2 separate regions of the Homo sapiens genome follow, and region 2 is reported to be linked to region 1. The links are microRNA targets in miRTarBase. Many come from high-throughput screens and were not tested one by one. Region 1 holds a microRNA gene; the other region holds the end of a gene's coding sequence.

Region 1 (8,216 bases):
AGACAGGGTTTTGCCATGTTGTCCAGGCTGGTCACGGACTCCTGGCCTCAGTCAATCCCCCCCTCGGCCTCCCAAAGTGCTGCGATTACAGGCATGAGCCACCGTGCCCGGTTTTTTGTTTTTGTTTTTAAGTTAAATAGGCATGGTGGCTCATGTCTGTGGTCCTAGTGACACAGGAGGTTGAGATAAGAGGATGGCTGAGCCCAGAAGCTCGAGGCTGCAGTGAGCCATGATCGTGCCACCACACTGTAGCCTGGGTGACACAGTGAGACCTTGTTTCAAAAAAAGAAAAAGAAATAACAAGACCTATGAAATCTGTACGTTGAAAACCACAAATTGCTAAGATACTAAAGATAAGAAAAAGATTCCTCATGTTCACGGATTAGAAGCCTCGATATAAAGAAGTCAGTTCTCCCCAAACTGATCTGTAGACTTGACAGAAGCCTAACCCTAATCCAAGAGGATTTTTTTTTGCAGAAACTGATACTGATTTTTTTAAATGTATAAGGAAATGTAGCAGACAGATTAGCCACAGCAACATTAATAAAAAGAACAAAAGTTAGAGAATTTACCCTATTGATTTCAAGACATATACTATATATCTACAGTAATCAAGACCATCTGGTACTGAGGAAAAGACACACACACAACAGCAGAATCGAGTTCAGATAGATTCATACTGAAAGGCACAGAAGGGGAGAAAATATTTACATTATGTACGTATAAAAAACAATTCACAAGTGGAATAAAGAACTCTTACACAAGTCAATTACTAAGGCAAAAAACTCCATTTTTAAAAACGGCCAGGTCGTTCTGGCTCAAGAGCGCAGAATGACTTGGAGGCAGTGAGAGTGTAGGAACGGATGGACTTGGCAGATTTTCTTTTCATTCTTACCATTTCAGGATAGAATCCAAAATCACTCAACACATAAAGCTGAGAAAATGTTAACTCATTCTTTCTTTTCCCCGCCTGACTTTATTGCCCGGGCTGGAGTGCAGTGGTCACATTTCAGCTCACTGCAACCTTGACCTCCTGGGCTCAGCTGATCCCCCCACCTCAGCCTCCTGAGTAGCTGGGACTACAGGTGTGCAATACCACGCCCAGCTATTTTTTAAAATTTTTATAGAGTCAGGATCTTGTTGGTCTCAAACTCCCAGACTCAAGCAATCCGCCTGCTACAGCCTCCCAAAGTGCTGGGATCACAGGTGTGAGCCACCCTACCCAGCCTAATTTTTTTTTTTAGAAACAAGGTTTTTCTCTGTTGCCCAGGCTGGAGTGCAGTGGTGCGATCTTGGCTCACTGCAGCCTTGAAATCCTGGACTCAAGAAAGCCTCCCTTCTCAGCATCCCAAGCAGCTAAGACTACAGGAATGTGCCACCATGCCCAGCTAACTTTAAAATTTTCTATAGAGACACGGTCTGGCTTTGTTGCCCAGGCTGGTCTCAAGTGATCCTCCTGCCTCAGCCTCCCAAAGTGCCAGGATTATAGGTGCAAGCCACTGCTCCTCACCAAAATGTGACTTATTCTTTTTTTTTTCTTTTTTGAGACAGAGTCTCACTCTGTTGCCCAGGCTGGAGTGCAGTGGTGCAATCTCAGCTCACTGCAACCTCCACCTTCCAGGCTCAAGCGATTCTCCTGCCGTAGCCTCCTGAATAGCTGGGACTACAGGCACGTACCACCACGCCTGGCTAATTTTTGTATTTTTAGTAGAGATTGGGTTTTGCCATGTTGGCTAGGCTGGTCTGGAACTCCTGACCTCAGGTGAGCCACCCGCCTCAGCCTCCCAAAGTGCTGGGGATTACAGGCATGAGCCACCATGTCCGGCTAAAACCTAGATTTTTAGAAAGGAATGAAGACCACTGGAAATGGTAAATACCTAGGTAAAACACCATTTTTTGCTTTTTTGTTTGTTTGGAGACAGGGTCTTGCTCTGTCACCCAGGCTGGAATGCAGTGGTGTGATAAGGGATCATGGCAGCCTCAACCTCTCAGACTCAAGTGATCCTCCCAACACAGCCTCCTGAATAGGTGGGACTACAGGCGTGAGCCACCATGCCAGCTAAGTTTTTAGAAATTTTTTGCAGAGACGGGGTCTATGTTGCTCAGGCTGATCTTGAATTCCTTGGCTCAAGTGATCCTCCTGCCTTGGGTCATGGTCACCAAAGTGCCGAGATCACAGGAGCCAACCCTTTCTGATGTCTATTTTTTTTTTTTTTTTGAGACAGAGTCTCACTCTGTCACCCAAACTGGATGGAGTGCAATGGTGCAATCTTGGCTCCATGCACCCTCCACCACCCAGGTTCAAGCGATTCTCCTGCCTCAGCCTGCCAAGTGGCTGGGATTACAGGCGCGCGCCACCACACCCAGCTAATTTTTTTGTATTTTTAGTACAGATGGGCTTCACCATGTTGGCCAGGATAGTCTTGAACTCCTGACCTCAGGTGACCCGCCTGCCTCGGCCTCTCGAAGTGCTGGGATTACAGGCGTGAGCCACCAACCTGGACTGCCTATTTCCTTGGGGTAATGAGTCCGGGAGTTTGCCACCTGATGTTTGAAGTAGCACCTCACAACTTCATTCTTCCTAAACTTGGTTTAAATTTCAAGGGGGCCGGGAGTGGTGGCTCACGCCTGTAATTCCAGCACTTTGGGAGGCTGAGGTGGTTGAATCACCTGAGATCAAGAGTTTGAGACCAGCCTGGCCAACGTGGTGAAACCTCATCTCTACTACAAATACAAAAATTAGCTGGGTGTGACGGTGTGCATCTGTAATCCCAGCTAGTTGGGAGGCTGAGGCAGGAGGATGGCTTGAACCCGGGAGGAGGAGGTTGCAGTGAACTGAAATTGCACCACTGGACGTCAGCCTGGGTGACAGAGTGAGACCCTGTCTCCAAAAAAAAAACTTTCAAGGGGATCCCATGTCAACAGAAAGGTTATAACACAGTTAAAGGAGAGGCCTGGTGTGCAGCCGCAGCTACACGAGCAGCACGTGCTGCAACCTGCTGCAAGTGACGAGCTGCCATCAGCGTTATTCGCAGTCTTCATTTCTGGAGGGCTAAGTTCCAACCTTCAGTCAGAACTCTTTTTTTTTTTTTTTGAGACGGAGTCTCGCTCTGTCTCCCAGGCTGGAGTGCAGTGGCACTATCTCGGCTTGCTGCAAGCTCCGCCTCCCGGGTTCACGCCATTCTTCTGCCTCAGCCTCCTGAGTAGCTGGGACTACAGGCACCCGCCACCACGCCCGGCTAATTTTTTGCAGTTTTAGTAGAGACGGGGTTTCACCGTGTTAGCCAGGATGGTCTTGATCACCACACCTCGTGATCCACCAGCCTCGGCCTCCCAAAGTGCTGGGATTACAGGTGTGAGCCACCAGGCCCGGCCTCAGTCAGAACTCTTTTAGTGACATCATTATCTTTAAAAAGCAAACAAGGTGGCCGGGCACGGTGGCTCAAGCTTGTAATCCCAAAACTTTGGGAGGCTGAGGAGGGCGGATCACCTGAGGTCAGGAGTTTGAGGCCAGCCTGACCAACATGGAGAAACCCCATCTCTACTAAAAATGCAAAATTAGCCGGGCGTGATGGCACATGCCTGTAATCCCACCTACTCAGGAGGCTGAGGTAGAAGAATCACTTGAACCCGGGAGGTGGAGTTTGCAGCGAGCTGAGACCGTGCCGTTGCACTCCAGTCTGCGTAACAATAGTGAAACTCCGTCTCAAAACAAAACAAAATAAAAAAAAGCAAACAAGGCTTTGGGAGGCTGAGGCAGGTGGATTGCTTCTTGTGGCCAGGAGTTCGAGACCAGCCTGACCAACATGGAGAAAACCTGTCTCTACTAAAAATACAAAATTAACTGGGTGTGGTGGCACACACCTGTAATCCCAGCTACTCAGGAGGCTGAGGCAGGAGAATCGCTTGAACCCTCGAGGGGGAGGTTGCAGTGAGCCGAGATCTCACCACTGCACTCCAGCCTGGGTGACAGAGTCAGACTCAGTCTCAAAAATAAATAAATAAATAAAAATTAAAAATTAAAAGCAAACAAAAAGGGTCACGTTTTACAAATCCAGCGTATCCCAGTCCGTTCTGCTGGCAGCAGCCCCAGGGCCCGCACACATGCCTAGGCAGACAAGACCGCACACGTGCAGGGACGCTGAGCTTCTGAAATGGCGGGGACCCGTGTCCTCCCTCCCTACGCCAGGGCAGCCACTCTATGACCTCGGCTCCTTCACAGCCCTGGCTGTAGCCTGAGGCCCCCGCATGGCGGGCATCCCCACCAGACGTTGGCGGACGAGAGCCCTGCTGACGCCAGCCCCTTCCCCCACCACACCCACCACACTTCCCGGTCCGACGCAGGACTACCTGTTCCCGGGCAGACACAGAGCACAGAGTGCCGGGTCCCACGTCAGCCCCTGACGCACCTGCCGTCTCTTCAACACCCTGCCCTGCTCCCTGCTGGCTGGAGAGCCCTCACTCAGACCCCAGAGCCCTGAGCCTGCTCTTGGGAACCTCCCCTGCCACACAGCCGGGTGCGTCCTCTTCCGTGGCGCTGTCCTGTGCGTCCTCTTCCGTGGCGCTGTCCCGGGCCCTGGGCACATGTCCACACAGCCGGGTGCGTCCTCTTCCGTGGCGCTGTCCCGGGCCCTGGGCACATGTCCACACAGCCGGGTGCGTCCTCTTCCGTGGCGCTGTCCCGGGCCCTGGGCACATGTCCACACAGCCGGGTGCATCCTCTTCCGTGGCGCTGTCCCGGGCCCTGGGCACATGTGCACACAGCCGGGTGCGTCCTCTTCCGTGGCGCTGTCCCGGGCCCTGGGCACATGTGCACACAGCCGGGTGCGTCCTCTTCCATGGCGCTGTCCCGGGCCCTGGGCACATGTGCACACAGCCGGGTGCGTCCTCTTCCGTGGCGCTGTCCCGGGCCCTGGGCACATGTGCACACAGCCGGGTGCGTCCTCTTCCGTGGCGCTGTCCTGTGCGTCCTCTTCCGTGGCGCTGTCCCGGGCCCTGGGCACATGTCCACACAGCCGGGTGCGTCCTCTTCCGTGGCGCTGTCCCGGGCCCTGGGCACATGTGCACACAGCCGGGTGCGTCCTCTTCCGTGGCGCTGTCCCGGGCCCTGGGCACATGTGCACACAGCCGGGTGCGTCCTCTTCCGTGGCGCTGTCCCGGGCCCTGGGCACATGTGCACACAGCCGGGTGCGTCCTCTTCCGTGGCGCTGTCCCGGGCCCTGGGCACATGTCCACACAGCCGGGTGTGTCCTCTTCCGTGGCGCTGTCCTGGGCCCTGGGCACATGTCCACACAGCCGGGTGCGTCCTCTCCCCGGACACGTCGGTGCCATCACAGCTCAGCATTCATTTGCTCAACAGTTACGATGCATCGATCACATGCCTCGCTCTGTTCTCAGAGCTGGGGACTCAGTGGTAACAAAATAAACCAAACAGGCAAAAATCTCCGCCTGCGGCAGCTTGCAGTTTAGCAGGTCCCTGCTCCTCAGAATGCAGCAGCTTGCAGTCTAGCAGGTCCATGCTCCTCAGAAGACTTAAAGATCTTCAGGGGTAAAAAAATAAAATAAAATACGTGTGTTCTTATTTCTGTACTTCCAGGTGCAATCTCAGTGTGTGCAGCAAACGTTTTATAAAAGAGCTGCTGCTGAACTCAAACTACTGTTGGGGAAAAACTGTGGCCAACTTTGTAAGAACAGATATGAAAACATCTTAAAAGGAAGTCTATTTTTGTTCTGTTTTAAATATTTTACTATGTATTATGTGAAATACAGAAAGAAATATATGGAACATATCAGCCGGGCGTGGTGGCTCACGCCTGTAATCCCAGCACTTTGGGAGGCCAAGGCGGGCGGGTCACAAGGTCAGGAGATCGAGACCATCCTGGCTAACACAGTGAAACCCCGTCTCTACAAAAATACAAAAACATTAGCCAGGCATGGTGGTGGGCGCCTGTAGTCCCAGCTACTCGGGAGGCTGAGGCGGAGAATGGTGTAAACCTGGGAGGTAGAGCTTGCCGTGAGCCGAGATCGCGCCACTGCACTCCAGCATGGGTGACAGAGCGAGACTCCGTCTCAAAAAAACAACAAAAAATATATGGAACATATAAATTATGACGCATAAACACCATGATCCCGTCTCTAATTTAAAAACTGGAAAATTATCAATAACTTGGAAGTTTCATTTTCCCCATATATACCTTAAATTCAATGCTATTCTCTTGCTTCTAAAAAATTACCTCATGTTTATCCCTAAACGCTAATTAGTTTTAATTTTTTGAGCTTAAAAATACGGCCTAGCACTGGATTTACTTTTCTGTAATCTGCTTTTTTTTTCCTTTGAGACAGGGTCTTGCTATGTTGCCCAGGCTGGCCTCAAACTCCCAGGCTGAAGTGATCTCCCACCTTCAGGCTCTGAGTAGCTGGGACTATAGGCACACAGCATCGTGCCTGGCTTGATCTGCTTCTGAAACGCCTACGTTCCTAAGATTCGTCTACACTGCAGATTGTAGCTACAATTCATTCATCTCCAGTGTGGTCACATTCTATTCTGTGAATAGACCACAACTGATCCATCCACTCTTGCACCGAAGGACATCTGGGCTGTTCTCAGCTTCTGTTACCACCAAGTTGCTTGGAACATTCCTGAGCAGCAGGCGCGGTGGGTGGCGAAGGGCGGACAGCGTGAAGCTGATGCAGCTACCGTGAGCAGCACAGACACTGGCAGGAGGAGTGGGCGACCGTCACAGCAACAAGCAACTGAGGCGTGAGAAGACAGGCAGTGCCCCCACTCCCTGGGAAATGCAAATTAAACCACAGAGCACTACTAGGTACACACCTATCAAAACTGCTTAAAAAATAATCCCAGAACTTTGGGAGGCCAAGGTGGGCAGATGGCTTGAGGTCAGGAGTTCAAGACCAGCCTGGTCAACATGGTGAAACCCTGTCTCTGCCAAAAAATACAAAAATTACCTCGGTGTGATGGCGCATGCCTGTAGTCCCAGCTACTCAGGAGGCTGAGGCAGGAAAATCGCTTGAATCCGGGAGGCAGAGGTTGCAGTGAGCCGAGATCGCGCCACTGCACTCCAGCCTGGGCGACAGAGCAAGACTCCATCTCAAAAAAAAATAATAATAATAAGGCTGGATGCAGTGGCTCATGCCTATAATCCCAGAACTTTGAGAGGCCAAGGTGGGCATGTCACTTGAGCTCAGGAGTTTGAGACCAGCCTGGACAACACAGCGAAACCCCATCTCTACAGAAAATACAAAAGTTCTGCATTTTTTGTATTGCACCTGCAGTCCCAGTTACTCGAGAGGCTGAGGCAAGAGAATCGCTTGAACCCAGGAGGCGGCGGCTGCAGTGAGCCAAGATCACACCATGTATTCCAGCCTGGGCAACAGAGTGAGACTCCATCTCGAAAAAAAGAAAAAAGCTAATTTTAAAAAAGTAATAGAAGCCAGGTGTTGTGGGAAGTCAGGGACCCTGAACAGATGGACCGGCTGGAGCTGTGGCAAAGGAACATAAATTGTGAAGATTTCATGGACATTTACCAGTTTCCAAATAATACTTTGATAATTTCTTAAGCCTGTCTTACTTTAATCTCTTAATCCTGTTATCTTCATAAACTGAGGATGTACATCACCTCAGGGCCACTATAATTGTGTTAACTGTACAAACTGTAAAACGTGCGTTTGAACAATATGAAATCAGTACACCTTGAAAAAGAACAGAATAATCGTGATTTTCAGGGAACAAGGGAAGACAACCATAAGGTCTGACTGCCTGTGTGGTCAGGCAAAATACAGCCATATTTTTCTTCTTGCAGAGAGCCTATAAGCGGACGTGCAAGTAGGGAAGATATCACTAAATTCTTTTCCTAGCAAGAATTAATACTCTGGGAAAGGAATGCATTCCTGGGGGGAGGTCTACAGAAGGCTGCTCTGGGAGTGCCTGTCTTATGTGGTTGAGATAAGGACTGAAATACGCCCTGGTCTCCTGCAGTACCCTCAGGCTTACTAGGATTGGGAAACCCCACCCTGGTAAATTTTTGGTCAGACTGGTTCTCTGCTCTGGAACCCTGTTTTCTGTTGTTTAAGATGTTTATCAAGACAATACATGCACCGCTGAACACAGACCCTTATCAGGAGTTCCACTTTTGCCCTTTGCCTTGTGATCTTTGTTCTCCTTTTTGCCCTTTGAAGCATGTGATCTTGTGACCTAC
Region 2 (7,608 bases), not on the chromosome of region 1:
GAGAGTTTCACTCTTGTTGCCCAGGCTGGAATGCAATGGCACGATCTCGGCTCACTGCAACCTCTGCCTTCCAGGTTCAAACGATTCTCCTGTCTCAGCCTCCCAAGTAGCTGGGATTACAGGCATGTGCCACCATGCCTGGCTAATTTTGTATTTTTAGTAGAGACGGGGTTTCTCCATGTTGGTCAGGCTGGTCTCAAACTCCCAACCTCAGGTGATCTGCCCACCTCAGCCTCCCAAAGTGCTGGGATTATAGGCATGAGCCACTGCACCTGGCCTATTCTTTATTTCTTTTAGAGACAGCGTCATTCTGTCTCTCACCCAGCCTGGAGTGCAGTGGAATAATCATAGCTCACTGCGGCCTTGAACTCCTGGCTCAAGCAATCCTCCTGCCCCAGCCTCCCAAGTAGTTGGAACTACAGGTGTGCTAATTTTTTAAAATTTCTGTAGAGATGGGCAGGGAGCACTCTCACTATATTGCCCAGGCTGGTCTTGAACTCCAGGCCTCAAGCAATCCTCTCACCTCGGCTTCTCAAAGTGCTGGGATTACAGGCATGAGCACACCGTGCCCAGAGATTTATTTAGATCAGTCAGGATTTGCCTCCGGATCTGAGACTTGTGTGGGAGGCTTATACTTGAACAACAAAATTGGACTTCTGCAGGCAATAAAGAAGGAGATTAAGGATGTTGAGTAGGTAATCAGCAGTATCTGCTATAGTGTGAAATGGTGGACCATTGAGAGGAAGACTTTATAAACACTTTTCAGCTTGAAGGTCGCTAATTTAACCATTAACGGTCTCTTCTTGTAAATTTGACCATGGGAAGTTCTTTTGTTAGTTTGTCGGTTGTTTTTTCAGGGGAGATGGTGAGGATGGGGGAGATTCTTTTTAATTTCTAACTCCTGGCCGGGTGCAATGGCTCACGCCTGGAATCCCAGCACTTTGGGAGGCCGAGGTGGGCGGATCACAAGGTCAGGAGTTTGAGACCATCCTGACGAACATGAAACCACGTCTCTACTAAAAATAAAAAATTAGCTGGGTGCGGTGGCTCACGCCTGGAATCCCAGCACTTTGGGAAGCCGAGGCGGGCGAATCACTTGAGGTCAGGAGTTCAAGACCAGCCTGACCAACATGGTGAAACCACATCTCTACTAAAAATACAAAAATTAGCCAGGCATGGTGGCGGGTGCCTGTAATCCCAGCTACTCGGGAGGCTGAGGCAGGAGAATCACTGAACCTGGGAGGTGGAGGTTGCAGTGAGCCAAGATCTCACCACTGTACTCCAGCCTGGGCGACAAAGTTAGATTCCATCTCAAAAAAAAAAAAAAAAAAAAAAGTAACTCCTGGATTATCCATTTTTGTTTGACATCCCCAGAATATACTTTCTCCATCTATGTTGAACATATCCAACCTTAGCCTTGCATCTGAAAAAAGGTCCTCTGCTCACCTGCTCTTTTCACCCTAACTACTCCCTCTCTCCTATGCTTCTTCCCATCTCGCTCTAATCCCATGGCTCTGCTTGCGCCATTTAGGGGAACACAGAAATCGTTAACCTCAACCTGCTGTCGGCATCATAAACTGACCTGACCATAACTACATCAGTCTTTTGTCTTGTTCTTCCTTCTCCTTGAAAGCTGTCTGTTTCCAGACATCCTGAGGAGTTTCCACAGAGTAAATACTCAAAAGTGTTTACTGAATAAATGCATTTATTCTGTCCCTTCTCCAGCCTTTTTCAACCTCCACCTTTGTGTGGGCGCAAGGAATTTTTACATGTATTTTTGGTCCCCCTTGCTCAGTCTTCAAACAATGGTCTGCAGACATTTGTTTTCTATTTTTTAACAGCTTTATCGAGACATAATTTATATAGCTCAGTATATACCATAACATTTACCTGTTTTTAAGTGCACAAATCAATTCAGTGAATTTATAGAATTGTGAAAACAAGACACAATCCAGTTTTAAAGTGTTTGCATCAACCTCCAAAAAATCATCTCCCATCCCCAGCCCCAGGCAGCCATAATCAATTCCCATCCCCAGACCCAGGCAGCCATAATCAATTCCCATCCTCAGCCCCAGGCAGCCATAATCAATTCCCATCCCCAGCCCCAGGCAGCCATAATCAATTCCCATCCCCAGCCCCAGGCAGCCATAATCAATTCCCATCCGCAGCCCCAGGCAGCCATAATCAATTCCCATCCCCAGCCCCAGGCAGCCATAATCAATTCCCATCCGCAGCCCCAGGCAGCCATAATCAATTCCCATCCCCCGCCCCAGGCAGCCATAATCAATTCCCATCCCCAGCCCCAGGCAGCCATAATCAATTCTCATCCCCAGCCCCAGGCAGCCATAATCAATTCCCATCCGCAGCCCCAGGCAGCCCTCATCTGCTTTCTGTCTCTATAGAGCTGCTTTAAAAAAAAATATTTCATGGCCGGGTGCAGTGGCTCATGCCCGTAATCCCAGCACCTTGGGAGGCCAAGGCGGGTGGATCACCTGAGGTCAGGAGTTTGAGACCAGCCTGGCCAACATGGCGAAACCTCATCTCTACTAAAAATACAAAAATTAGCCAGGCGTGGTGGCGGGCGCCTGCAGTCCCAGCTACTGGAGAGGCTGAGGCAGGAGAATCGCTTGAATCTGGGAGGCAGAGGTTGCAGTGAGCCAAGATCACATCACTACACTCCAGCCCGGGCAACAGAGTGAGTCTCCATCTCAAAAAAAAAAAAAAAAGAAAAGAAAAATCTTGTGGGGAATGCCTTTCTACGTATGACAAAAGGTGCAGATGTGTAGAGAAAAATATTCATAAATTTTACCACATTAAACAATTCTACCAGGAAAAAATATCAAATTTTTTTAAATGACAAGGTGGAAATATTTGCAACTTATTTCATAGACTAAGGACTAATTTCCTTGATAAACAACTTTTATAAATCTGTAAGAAAAAGACCAGCAACCCAATAAAAAAATGAACAAAGGACTTAAGTTATTTCATAAAAAATGGGTCTTGGCCGTGTGCGGTGGCTCACGCCTGTAATCCTAGCACTTTGGGAGGCCGAGGTGGGCGGATCATGAGGTCAAGAAATCAAGACCATCCTGGCCAACATGGTGAAGCCCTGTCTCTACTAAAAATACAAAAATTAGCCTGGCATGGTGGTGCATGCCTGTAGTCCCAGCTACTCAGGAGGCTGAGGTGGGAGAATTGCTTGAACCCAGGAGGGCTGCAGTGAGCTGAGAGGTTGCAGTGAGGTTGCAGTGAGCTGAGATCGCACCACTGCACTCTGGCCTGGCGACAGAGCGAGACTCAGTCTAAAAAAAAAAAAAAAATGGTTCTTAAATATATGATACTCAGACCCCCTCAAAATAAGAGAAATGCAAATCAAAACTATAAGATACCATTTTTATATTAGAATATTGGCAAAACTCAAAAAGTTTGATAACATTCTCCATTGATGAGTATATGGGGGAAATGGGTACTCAAATGTATTGCTGATAGTTTAAGTTGGTACAACCTTCGTGGTAAGTACTACGCATTGGTAAAATGCACTCCAACCTCATCTCCTACCATTTCTTCTCTTGCACAATTTGTATTAGCCACATTGGCCTCCTGCTCCTCCTCAAACATGCAAGGCACACTCCAGCCCCAGGGCTAATACACTTACCTTTCCCCGCTAATCCTGAAATGCATACCAATTTTTCCTTGCCTCCTTCAGGCCTTTGCTCATCATGTGATCTAAAACAGTGGCTCCCATCCCCTCTATCATTCTCCTTTTCATCCCATTTTGAGCACTTACCATCTGATGACACTATTCTATGCATTTATGTCTCTGCTCTCCAACTGTAAACCCAGGACTTTGCTGTATATACTGCTGTAACCCCAAACTCCAGAACAGTACAGGCTTAGAATGTAGTAAGTGCTTATTAACTACAAATAATGAATGAATGAACGTCTATTGGTGACAACTTAGTATCTATTAAAACTTAGAATGCACATACTTAGTAATTCCCCTTTAGGCATTTATCTAATAGATATCCTTGCATATGTGCAAAACAGAGAATGTACAAGGTTATTTGTTGTAGCACTGTTTGTAGTCATGAAAGGAGAAAACAACCCAAGGATAAATTTTTTTTTTTTTTTTTGAGACAGAGTTTCACTCTTGTTGCCCAGGCTGGAGTGCAATAATGGCATGACCTCGGCTCACCACAACCTCCACCTCCCGGGTTCAAGCGATTCTCCTGCCTCAGCCTCCGGAGTAGCTGGGATTACAGGCATGCACCACCACACCCGGCTAATTTTGTATTTTTAGTAGAGACGGGGTTTCTTCATGTTGGTCAGGCTGGTCTTGAACTCCCAACCTCACGTGATCTGCCCGCCTCAGCCTCTCAAAGTGCTGGGATTACAGGCATGAGCCACTGCGCCCAGCAACCCAAGGACAAATTTTAAAATAAGTTACCTATAGCCAGGCACAGTGGCTCACATCTGTAATCCTAGCACTTTGGTAGGCTGAGGTGGGTGGATCACTTGAGCCCAGGAGTTCCAGACAAGCCTAGGCAACATGGTGAAACCCTGTCTCTACAAAAAATACAAAAATTAGCCAGGTGTGGTGGTGGGCACCTGTACTCACAGCTACTTGGGAGGCTGAGAGGGGAGGCTCACTTGAGCCCAGGAGGTTGAGGCTTTGGTGAGCTGTGATCATGCCACTGCACTCCAGCCTGGGTGACAGAGTGAGACCCTGTCTCAAATAAAAAATAAACTACCTATATCTATACAATAAAGAATAAAGGAATACTATGTAGATATGGAAAGATCTCTAATTCAGAAAATTATTTGGCTCCCTTTGGCTACTGTATGTATGAGATCTGACTATTTCAAAACTCTGGTGATATCACTACAAGAATGAGCTCCCTTTTAATGAAGTGCTTAATGGTAAGGAGAGTGGAAGTGAACAGGTAGAAACACTGAGTAATTATTTTCAGTTTTATTTAATAAACATCAATTTCCTTGTAGAAAACATAGAATTTCTACCAACTAAACAATATTGTAATAAGGATAAATGTATCAAATCACAGATAATGTTGTTAAACGAAGATGCTGTCTTGCAGATCCATTCATGAACAGGCCTAAACTGGCAGTGCCTATTGTTCATTTATTATGGGTGGATTTCCCATTTTACAAACAAACCTTTTATTTATGGGAAGAGGTTCAGCGTTTCGCAATGTCTTTAGTATGTATTTCCCGATACCGGAGGGGCAGAATTCCCCCTCTGTCCATCAAGTGACATCTGCTTGCAGCTGTAGGGAATTTTGCAGGGTACTCTTTTCCAGAGATAAATAATATAAAGATATAACACATAAGAGGTAATTCCCTGGTAACCATATATGTCCCCCAATCTTGTCTTGTCAAACTATAATTTGCTTATGGTTCCTCAAAAAAAAAATTGTTTCTTGTCCCTTTACTACTTCCCCTCTCCTTCTTTTCAGTTGCTCTTATCAGGAATCCTACACAAGCATCTACCTAAACACTACTATTTCAAGGGCCAGGCCACCTCCTATCTCTTTACTAAAGGACAAAGTCTTCCCTTACTATTCTACTCTACAGTAATATATGCTCTGGCCTTCTTTAGCCTTTATCATGCATTTGGCACTAATGTTTGTGTTGCTTAATACTGCTAATTAGCTTTTCACAGGTTTTGACATCTTCCAGTCAGATTGTAAGCTTTTTTTTTTTTTTTTTTTTGAGATGGAGTTTTGCTCATCGCCCAGGCTGGAGTACAATGGCGCGATCTCGGCTCACTGCAACCTCAGCCTCCCAGGTTCAAGCGAATCTCCTGCCTCAGCCTCCTGAGTAGCCGGGATTACAGGCACCCGCCACCACGCCTGGCTAATTTTTGTATTTTTAGTAGAGGCGAGGTTTCACCATGTTGGCTAGGCTGGTCTCGAACTCCTGACCTTAGGTGATCCACCCGCCTCAGCCTCCCAAAGTGCTGGGATTACAGGCGTGAGCCACCGCACCCGGCATGATTGTAAGCTCCTTAAAGGCAGATTCCTTTATTCTGTTTTTCCCATACTCCTCATGCACCTACATAGTAGATGCTTTAAATGTCCTGGTTTTGAAAAGTAACATGGTCAATCCCCTATAACCCAACATATTTAGTATTCTTTACAGCTTCTTCCAGAACCAGTCTGGTAATAAACATGGATATTCTGCTAGCCCAATGCATGTTTTGAGTGTTTGGTATCAGAACTCATCAGCTGACTCTGTGTCCCAGCCACAGGACTGCAGTTGATCGTCCTGTGGAAATTCAACCTCAATGTCATAAACAAAATTTGGATCATCCTTCTTCTTCTGATTTTTCTCAAAAAGTTCATCCATGATGCTCTTTCTTTTGGCAAGCTCCTTGTCATCTAGTTTGTTCAGGTCTTCCTCAGGATCAATGGTTGTTTCCCGTTGAATTTGTTCCATTGTTTCTGCCAGACTCTGCCCCGACAAGTAACCTCGTAAAAAACTGAATAGCTTCTCTAGCTGCCTCAGGGATACTTGTTCTAGGTAACTCTTGTGTCGCGGATTATTCTTTAATTGTTCAGCAGCTCTGGTGCAATCTGGGAGAGAGAAGAAAACTATATACCACATACGTACCACGTACATCATATACGCCATAAACTACTGCAACAGCCAAAACAGAACAAAAACTCTGAACCCTGAAAATATTATCTCCATTATAGTCAAGTAGCTAAATGGCTTGATTGGAATGAATTACTTTGTAGAACCATTCCTTTATATTGAGCTTTCAGTGTGGTGGGAGAAGGACAGATACAGTTTTGACTTCTTTAACTTAAAAATCACTTTGTAGAGATATTAAACACTTTCAACTGGAGAATATGTCTGAGAAGAAAAGTGATATTATAGCTTTTAGATAGCAGTAGTGGTATTAATAAAATATTAAGACTACAAATAAAAAACATTTGGAATGAGAGAAGGGAATTAATATTATTGAATAATGCTATATCATTTAACCTAGGCAGCAATCCCAAAAGGATTATTAATTATCAGATTGGAAAAAAACACTACAATTCCCTTTTATAGATTAGGAAACTGAAGCTCACTGAGAGTAAGTAATTCATCCAGTGTCACACATCCAGTCCCTGACAGAGTCATGATGTGAACCTGTATTTAGAGAATATTTAAGACAGGAGGCAAGATAAGACATGAGGTACCTGAAAACTTTGAAAAGTTTCGAACTGGCATAATGCGCTGGCGAATTTTCCCCTTGATTTCACTCTCATAGATTAAGATAATAGCTGGAGGCTGAAACCTAATCCCACATTTCTTGGCAGTGCACATCATTCCCATGTACATGTCCGGGTAAGTCAGAGGAAATCTGATGAATATGTGTAAGTTGCATAATGACTTCCTGCTAAAGGGAAAAAACAACTAGGTGTTGGATAAATGTCATTCATTCCCCTCGCCCCTTTGCCCCAGAAGATCTGGTTCTAGTCCGGCTCTGGCCACACACGCTCAGCCTGTGAAACTCATTTTTTTTAAAATTAAAATACGGACTGCTTCATGAATTTGTGTGTCATCCTTGCGCAGGGGCCATGCTGATCCTCTCTGTAT

What was found. The annotated mature microRNA hsa-miR-941 reads CACCCGGCUGUGUGCACAUGUGC and lies in region 1 at 5,168-5,190, opposite strand. An mRNA with a match to its seed (bases 2 to 7 or 8) in the 3' UTR can be bound and repressed. Matches are read on the target gene's strand: a 7mer-m8 pairs with bases 2 to 8, a 7mer-A1 pairs with bases 2 to 7 and ends in A, and an 8mer does both.
Region 2: miRTarBase lists CEP19 as a target of hsa-miR-941. Seed matches in the 3' UTR shown: 7mer-m8 at 6,004-6,010.

The regions. Positions count from the first base shown.
Region 1 is chr20:63,916,469-63,924,684 of GRCh38, reverse strand. It overlaps MIR941-1 (microRNA 941-1), which reads right to left and starts at 5,236; the gene lies at 5,165-5,236. The region is part of intron 1 of DNAJC5 (DnaJ heat shock protein family (Hsp40) member C5); the gene reads right to left. LOC124904951 reads right to left here and starts at 6,926. Exons shown (of 1, transcript XM_047440634.1): 1 at 4,250-6,926. The coding sequence starts at 5,285. The coding sequence ends at 4,347. It overlaps MIR941-2 (microRNA 941-2), which reads right to left and starts at 5,180; the gene lies at 5,109-5,180. It also overlaps MIR941-3, MIR941-4 and MIR941-5. RefSeq lists an enhancer at 4,229-4,931.
Region 2 is chr3:196,701,320-196,708,927 of GRCh38, forward strand. It overlaps CEP19 (centrosomal protein 19), which reads right to left. Exons shown (of 3, transcript NM_032898.5): 2 at 7,209-7,408; 3 at 4,958-6,593. The coding sequence starts at 7,338. The coding sequence ends at 6,232. It also overlaps the pseudogene RNU6-646P. Among named protein-coding and RNA genes, the nearest start is that of CEP19, 7.1 kb to the right of the region's middle.